Linked DNA regions of Homo sapiens: region 2 is linked to region 1. The links come from fine-mapping of genetic effects on gene expression. A gene starts in region 1. The other region holds a variant in brackets. All regions are shown on one strand. Distances are between the middles of the regions.

Region 1 (4,356 bases):
AATTAGCCATAAAATAGGGGATTTCATATCACCTGTTACATTTGTAGCTCACAATAAAAGCTTTGGAAGATGACAAAGCAGGAATCATTACACACATTTTACTGAAGGGGAAGAGAGGACATGAGACATCACAGGCTCAGTAACTGGCTTGGCCTGGTTTGGAACTGATGTCCTTTTAACCACAAAGCCCCCATTTTTCCAGGCTCTCCAACGTGCCCACAGGAGGTCACCTTCCCAGGCTCTGGATTTGACAGTAACCAATGTTCTAGTTTTTCTTGTCAATGGGCATGTTCAGGGCAACATTGCCCAAATGTGAACTGAGCCCACCTGTCTAGGGTTTTCTCCAAAGGTGAAGACAAATAGCCGCCACCAATTCCAATTTGCTTTTTGCCATTCCTAATACTTGGCATTTAGGTAATCTCCCTCTCCTACTCTTCATTTAAATGTTTACATTCTCCCAAAGTACCTCAAATGGTGTAATCTGGAGAAAAATAAGTGGCTTAAGATCACGGGGGCTTTGTGAGTTGGGTACTATTACTTCCGTTTTACAGATGAGGAAACTGAGGCCCGGAAAGGATATGTAGTCTGCCTAGTGCCCTGCTTGAGGAACCAAAATCAGCATGGGAACTGACTCCTAAGCAGGTGCGCGGTTCATGCTGCTGGAAGAAATATAAACAAATTAGAACAGAGAGTAAGGAAACGTAACATTACTTTAGGAATAGATTGGGTCCCTGAGACCTCGTCATCAGAGAAGACTTCAGAATCCAAGTTTTAAATAGCATTCTAGTGTTTACCAAGCACACAACATTTTGCAAAGAAAGCTGAAATTTTTACTTGGGGGTAAAAGGCTCAGGAACAACTGGTTTTGCGGCCAAAGGCTTTAAATGAAAAGCTAAGCGTTGGCCAGCTCAGGTTTTATCTTGCATTGATCGTAATCTGCAAGGAAGCTAAGAAGCTGGCCGGCCCCGCGCCTGGAGGGTAGGTGGAGAGCGGCTGGGTCCTGGCCAAGAAGCTGGAAGGCAGGCTCATTCCAGGGGCCGCAGCCCCCGGGAAGAAGCAGGGGGCTGGCCGCGCTGTGGCCCTGCGGGGTCGAGGAGTCTGGTAGCGGACAGGTTTCCAGCCTTGTACAAGCCACCGGCAGCCCGAGAGAAGTCAGTCGGACTCCCATCGAACCCGGGGCGCACGCCAGAGGGCCGGACGCAGCGAGTCCTTCTGCCCCGCTTCAGCACGTGTCCCATTTCGGTTATCTCATTGGCTCTATTCAGCCCCTCTCTGCTCCGCTTTGGAAGGCTGCCGCAGGACCGCCCCGCTGATTGGTTCAGAAGCTTTGGTGTGTCACTCTGACTGGTCGACAGAGTTCACGCCCTCTCTCCCGGGTCATACCATAAAGAGAGGAGGGGAAAACGCATGCATTTCAGGACTTCGCTTTCGGGTTCCCTTGTCCTGTGTTGTGTAATGCCCCCGTTATGGCACTAGAAATATTTTTTATTAGCCGAAGCTAAATATAGTGGGACTTTGGCTGATCCCGAGCTCGGAGGACAGCCGGGGTGATCCGTTTCCCCCCGAGGATCGAGGTGGTGCGCTCTGGACGGGGTTGTGCATTCTCGCCGCGCCCGGGCGGACGATCCAGCGAACAGCCCCGCTTCTAACCCGAGATGCTGCTGCCGGCGCCCGCGCTCCGCCGCGCCCTGCTGTCCCGCCCCTGGACCGGGGCCGGGTGAGTGAGCACGGGGCCCGGGGCGGCCCGAGCGCGCGCCTGGGGCCCGGGAGCCTGAGAGTCACTGGGCGTCCCCCGCGCCGCACTCCCTCCCTGCCGGACCCCCAAGCTGCCTCGGTCAACGCCGGGTTCCTCAGGGGCTCCCCTCCGACCCCCACCCAGGCCTTTCTCCCACTGAGATCCCTTAGCCTCCTCCCTCAGGTAGTCACCTTCCTTTAGCGAGGGGACCCCTCTTCCCGAATCCTGCGACCGAGTAGGGTGCCTCGGTGGCCCTGCCGGTTCCCACGCTCGGAAAGTAGCCTCTGTAGTCACTCACCTCACTCCTAATACTGGATCTTCGCAATTTGCTGGCTTCCCCTGAGGGGCCCTTCTATTTTTAGCACACCACACATCTCACTTCCCCACCCTCGTCTCACGTTCAGTGTCCCCATCCCGCCCCGGATTCCCCGAGTCCTCTCCTTCTACCAGGATTTCTACCTCTCTCTTTTCCGCTCCCCACACACCCCGCCGCCCGTTTTTTTTTTTTTTTTTCAAGTTAAATGTTGGACAGAAAAAAGGATTCCTTTCTTCTTGTAGGTGGAATAATCATATTTATAGAGTGCTTATAATGAACCAAATGCTGGCCGGGCAATTGGCAGGTGTCTTATGAGGATTAAATGAGTTAATACATGGGGAGTGCACTGAACAGTGCCCAGCACAAAGGCAGCGCCCGGTTATTATTATTGCCACGATCATCATCATTATCACCTCTATTTAAACTTCTCACTCCTGTGAGGCAGGTCATTATTCCAAATAATGAAGAAACCCAGGAGCAGTTCAGGGGTGGACCTGCCCTTCAAATCCCGATTTGCAAACCTGACATTGTGGAGCCAGGTGCCTGGACCCTTGCCCACTCAATGACAAATATTCTCAGAGCCCCTCCAGCTCGGAGCTAGGTTTGGAGAGGTAGGTGGGACACAGACCCTGCCCCAGAGGGGTTCCTAGTCTGGTGGGGCTGCCCACCTGTGGATCAGCCCCCCCTCCCATTTGAGGTTTGTTTGCTTGACCCCTGGGGCTGTTAGTGGCAGTGTCTTTCCTGATGAGCTGTGCCCTTTCTGAGTTAATCAGTGGCCCTCTCCCTTCCCCCAAGGGATGGCATGGTGGTGCTCTGAGCACAAGTGAGTTGCAACACTGCTGTGTGTCCTCTGTGGGTGAAGAGGGGATAGGAAAGGGCGCAGGAAGAGGACATGGGACAGAGGGGTTCCTCTTCTAGGCTGAGACTGGGGCCACACTTGCCATACTCCCTGTGTGATCCCGTTTGCAGGCCTTCCCTGCACTCTGAGACTCAGGAAGATGGAGCTTATAGAGTCCTGTGTTTACTGAGTGCCTACTGTGAGCTGGTGCTCTGCCAAACACCCTAGAGATGAGGGGTACCCAGGGAATTTACATGGGGTGGGGCCTTTGAGGAGTTTTCGGCTTAATAGGGGAGAAATGCATAGGAAAACCCTCCAATATCTAGTAGAAAGCAATCCATATTCTAAAAGATAAGCCCATGATAACAATAATGATTATCAAGCAATCAAGCACCATGGGCCTAACACCGAGCCGGTAAGTACTGTCTCATTCCTGTATTATCATGGGAAACGATCTGCCATCAGAGATATATGACTGAAATTACATTTGGTCTAAATCCAGATTTATGCTCTGAATTATGAGGCCTCCTGAATTGAGAGGGGAAAGAGAAAGAGCATTTTGCAGCTGGTTCCCTGGGCTCAAGTTACCCCTTTGATACAGCAGCTGGCCGCATGCCCTAGACAGGATTTCTCAACCTCACCACTATTCGCATTTGGGGCTACATTTTGGTTGCTGTGGAGTCTGTCCTGTGCACTGTAGAATGTTTAGCAGCGTCTCTGGCCTTTACCCGCTGCATGTCAGGGGCACCCCCGGCCCTGACAATTACGAAAAAAACCCTGGCCCTGACAGGAAACACAAGTTCCCAGACATTGTCAGATGTTACCTGGGGGACAAAAGTCACCTCCGGTTGAGAGCCAGTGCTCTAGAGGAACAGCTTTGATGTTTGATCACTTGTTCATTTACTCAGTGAACATTTAGAGCACACCCGTGACATGCCATGTCTGCATTTATGGAGAAACAGTCGCAGGGCATTTTCAGTGACATCCCTCAGTGTCCTACGTGTAAAACTCTAGTCCTGAGAAAAACCGCTGCTTTTGAGGAACGGGTATAGGAGATGCTTCTTAGTGTTTTCTTTTTTGCCTTGAGTGCCAGGAATCTCTGCTAGTTTTAAAAAATACCCTTGATACATGTTTTCTTTTAGTTTAATACATGTCAACTGTGAAAAGTACAGATAAGGCAAAAAAATAGAAAAATCACCTGGAATTGTACCACACAGAGGTACCCACTGTTAACATTTTGATTCATGTCCTTTAACTTTCCATGAATAGATATGCTTTTAAAAAAAACCTCATAGAAACAAGCTCATCTGCCCATACTTTATTGTAGCTTGTTTTTTCCCTTTATACACTTGTCTGCCTTACAGTATGTTCCCAGGCCCTGGAACTGTGTCTGGCACCTGGTAAGCCCTTGGCAAACATTTAGGGAATGAATGAACTAATCATGTGAGCCCTTCCTTGTCAATCGAT
Region 2 (4,382 bases), 27 kb after region 1:
CACACACGCATATGTCGATAAGTCCACCCACACGCATGTACATGGAGAAGGCATGCAGATCCCTACATGCTTAGACATGTGACCATGCATATGCCTATATATGCATTGATTGATGTGTGTCTGTGTTTATATGCGAGTGCACCTGTAGTACTAACACACGTACACTTGTGTGTGTACACACACACACACACACAGTGTTCATGTCTGTCCTTGTCTCTGCTGTGGCTCAGCCAGACCCTGGCTTTTGCCCTTGGCGTCCCCTACCCCTGCCCCTGTTTCAGGAGTTGGGCCCTTCAGGTGCAGGTGTTTCGGGGTGAGTGTGTTGTGGGGGCTGCCGCAGGGATGCCTTCCCAGCCTCTTAGACCTCCCTCCTCCCTGCCCACCCCAGTCCTTTGCCCGTATCAAGAAGTGGCTGGAGCACGCACGCTCCTCACCCAGCCTCACCATCCTGGCCGGGGGCAAGTGTGATGACTCCGTGGGCTACTTTGTGGAGCCCTGCATCGTGGAGAGCAAGGACCCTCAGGAGCCCATCATGAAGGAGGTGACTGGGGTGGGCAGCCTGGGGTCCAGAGGAGGACAATCCCACCGGAGCACAGCACACACACAGTTCTCCTGGAGACATTCTCCCATTTCACAGATGAGGCCCTAAAGGGAGACCCTAAAAGGGAATGCCTCCGACCGGGAGAGAGTAGAGCCAGGTTTTGAGCTCAGGCTGCCTAACTCCAAATCCGGGGCTGTGTCCTTGACCCTGGCTGGGGTCTGAGCATTTCCAGTGCCCTCAGCAACCACGTCCACTGCAGCCATCATAATGGCTGACACTGATAGACTTTTACTGTGGGGCCAGCTGTGGCTGAGCACTTGGCTGAGATGACGTGGGTGTTACTGTTCCCATTTTACAGATGAGAAACTGAGGTCAAGGCACTTGCCCAAGTTGGTAGTGCAGGGCTGGAGTGTGCCTGAGAAGATCTTCCCCCCAGCCCCTTGGTGGCAGAGGGAACCATGAACCCTTCTGGAGGGAATGGTATCTCTGGGCAACTCTCATGCCAGCTGCTGCTGGAAGCCTCTGGGACCTGGACCCTTAGTTCTCCGGGTGTGGGTTTGGCAGGGAGAGCCAGAAAATGTTTGCATCTTTTGCCGGCTTGTGGTGGGATGGACAGGACAGGGAGCTGGGCACGTTGCTGTCCTGGAGGGAACCCAGGAGGAGGCGACACCTGACCCTTCTTGCAGACACTGAAGTGTAAACTGAGGCCCAGGGACTGGGGAGAGGGTGAGCCAGAGCAGGGGCACTGGGAGGGCTCAGGGCCCTGGTCCCTGGTCCCGTGGAGGGTCTGACGCCGGGGCCTCTCTCCTAGGAGATCTTCGGGCCTGTACTGTCTGTGTACGTCTACCCGGATGACAAGTACAAGGAGACGCTGCAGCTGGTTGACAGCACCACCAGCTATGGCCTCACGGGGGCAGTGTTCTCCCAGGATAAGTGAGTGGCCAGGCCGCAGCCCTGGTGCTGTGCTCCGGGTGTCCTGTCCGTGTCCCCATCCCCACCTCCTGGACGTGGTTCCCAGTAATAATGCTGCCCCTACCTTCTCTCTGTCCCCTCCCCTCAGCCCAGACAGGCAGCCAGGGCTCGCCACATGGGCCCACAGCAGCAGGCTCTTTGTTGCCGGTACTGGTGGTGCCGGTGCCAGGG[T/C]GCCACTGGGGACCAGTGGATCTGAACCTCTAGGGGCAGGGCTAGGAATTGGTGTCTTCGACTGGCTCTGCGGGATCTGGTGTTGCCCCACTGAGTGAGGTGATTGTCCCATGCTACAAAGCAGGGCAGGCCAGGGGCTGCAGAGGCAGGATTCGAACCTGGGTCACATGAGGCTAAACTTGAGGCTTCGCCTCTTCTTTCCTCCGTGGCACTGGTTGCCCCCATGTCTGCCTCTATGAGAAAGTGGAGGTGAGCTTGGAGAGGGAGGAAGGGTGTGGGCCTGGGAGCTGGAGTTTCCGCTGCTCCTGAGGGACAGGAACATTGGACCAGGACAGGCCACTCCCTTCAACTTCGCAGTAGCCCTGTAACGAGGCGTGCCAAGCCCCTCCCCAGAGGAGGAAGCTGGGCTCAGAGACTGGGTAACCTGACCGAAGGCCCACAGCCAACAGCTGGCAGCATCCCTCATCCCTGACTCGGCCTCCTGTTGAACCTGGAAAGCCAGTGTGGGCTGGAGCAGGGGTGTTGAGGCTGGAGCTGGGGCTGGAGGGGAGATGAGCTGGTTGCTCTGTCACCACTGCTCTGCTTTGTAGGGACGTCGTGCAGGAGGCCACAAAGGTGCTGAGGAATGCTGCCGGCAACTTCTACATCAACGACAAGTCCACTGGCTCGATAGTGGGCCAGCAGCCCTTTGGGGGGGCCCGAGCCTCTGGTGAGTGGGTCCCCCTTCCCACAGGGGAGCTGAGTTCCTGGTGGGAGACCCTAGATGTTACGTCTCGAGGGGCTTCAGAGTAATAGGAAGGATACCATTTACTGAGCACTTATTGTGGGCCAAGCAAGTGCACTAGCTCAGGGTCCTTTCAGCAAACTCGTGAGCAAAGGGACTATTCTTCCCATTTTACAGAGGAGGAAACTGAGGCTCAAGGCCACATGACCCTGGTGGGATTGTAATTTTGGCTCCAGCAGCCGCACTTTCTGCACCATAGCCAGTGTCCCTTAAGTCCAACAACCTCTACTTCACAATGGGGAACTGAGGCTCAGGAGGAGCAATGGCTTGCCAAAGGTGACTGCTCCTGAGTGGCAGAGCCAGGGCTGAACCCAGGCGTGCTGGGGTTTCCCACACCGACCAGTTCTCCAGCTCTTGATGGATGCTGGCTGGGTGTCCTACAGTTTAACTTGATGCTCACTGCCTGGGGTTAGTGCAGACCCCACAGGTTAAGAACTCAGTCCCGTAAGACTGACCCCCCAACTTCAGATGCCAATCACAAGTACTGGGACCCCAGGTTACCCACACCTTGTCTGACTTTGCGACGCATTAGAAGCTCCCATGATGCCCTCTTGAGTTTTGATACGTTGTTAGAACAGCTCACGGAACCGAGGGGAAGCGTGCTTACTATTACCCATGTATTGCAGAGGGTATTTTAAAGGATACAGATGAACAGCCAGATGCGCAGACACATAGGGCAAAGACTGGAAGGGTCCCCGGCAGGGGCACCGCCGTCCCCCTGGAGTTCGGGCTGTGCCACCCCCTTGGCATGTGGACGTGTTCACCAATCTGGAAGCTCTCCCGACCCTGTCCTTTTAGGTTTTTATGGAGGCTGCATTACACAGGCACGATTGATTCAATCATTGGCCATTGGGGTCGACTCAACCTCCAGCCCCTCTGCCCTCCCTGGGGCTGAAGGTTCCAAGCCTCTAATCACAGGGTTGGTTCCTTTGCCAATCAGTGCCATCCTGCAAGAGCCCTCATTAGCATAAACTCATGTGTGATTAGAAGGGGCTTGTTATGAATAACGGAAGACACTCCTTTCACCCCCATCACTCTGGAAATTCCAAGAGCTTTAGGAATTCTGGCTAGGAACCAGGGGTGAAGGCTAGATATGTACCTCTTATGGCACCCCAGGACCATGCCAAGTCCCTGCCTCTCAGTCTAGTGTTCTCTCCACGCCACACCCTGCCTCTTAGACATCCTCGCATCCCAGCAAGGATGCAAGGCTGGGTGCGACTGGAGAGAACAATGGAGGCTCCCCACAGACTGGAGACTGGAGGCAGGGTCTCCTGTCCATCCCTCTGGCTCTTCTGCATGCCCCAAGCTTGGCAGCAGGCTCGCTGCTGGCCGCTACACTGCTGGTCCGTTGATTCCATCATCTCCTCCCTTCCCCTTCTGCCCAGGCTGTTGCATCTTTTCAGAGAAAAACAGAAGTGTCTTTTCCGCAGGAACCAATGACAAGCCAGGGGGCCCACACTACATCCTGCGCTGGACGTCGCCGCAGGTCATCAAGGAGACACATAAGCCCCTGGGGGACTGGAGCTACGCGTACATGCAGTGAGCCCCTCTCGGGCTCCACCGTCCAGCTGTCTGTCCGTCCAGGTGGCCGACCTCACTGCACAGACCCCACTCCAGCCCCTCCACCCCTTCTTCATGCACAGCTGCCTTTCTATAATCCGGGCTTGACTCCCTTCTTACCACTGTATTCTGGCCTCTCCCATGCCTCAGGCTCTGGTTTGAGATCGTGCTGGGGAGGAACATGGCCACTACCCCTTATCCCATCGGCCATGTGGGAGGTATGACCCTGGTGCCTGGCAGGTTCTCCCTCTGCCCTCCACTGGGCCCAGTGGCTCAGGGACCTGGGGAAAGGAGATGGAGCAGCTCTTGGGATCCTTTGGGGAAAAGGAGGCCATTCTGGGCCCCTTGGCAAAC

Evidence for each region. PIP is the estimated chance that this variant, and not a neighbour inherited with it, causes the effect. A credible set is the group of variants that fine-mapping cannot tell apart.
Region 2: its variant is the best candidate, but not a certain one, in a credible set for the expression of ALDH4A1 in lung (TOPMed, PIP 0.88).

What each region holds. Positions count from the first base shown.
Region 1 is chr1:18,899,823-18,904,178 of GRCh38, reverse strand. It overlaps ALDH4A1 (aldehyde dehydrogenase 4 family member A1), which reads left to right and starts at 1,624. Exons shown (of 15, transcript NM_003748.4): 1 at 1,624-1,717. The coding sequence starts at 1,656. It overlaps LOC124903866 (a long non-coding RNA gene), which reads right to left and starts at 2,066. Exons shown (of 2, transcript XR_007065519.1): 1 at 1,927-2,066; 2 at 808-1,369. RefSeq lists enhancers at 571-1,388, 1,328-1,557 and a silencer at 1,638-1,857.
Region 2 is chr1:18,872,474-18,876,855 of GRCh38, reverse strand. ALDH4A1 (aldehyde dehydrogenase 4 family member A1) reads left to right here. Exons shown (of 15, transcript NM_003748.4): 12 at 389-541; 13 at 1,353-1,474; 14 at 2,275-2,393; 15 at 3,899-4,382. The coding sequence ends at 4,011. Among named protein-coding and RNA genes, the nearest start is that of MIR4695, 8.6 kb to the left of the region's middle. RefSeq lists enhancers at 960-1,459, 1,267-1,561 and a silencer at 1,375-1,464. The variant T/C (reference allele first, on the strand shown) is at 1,685.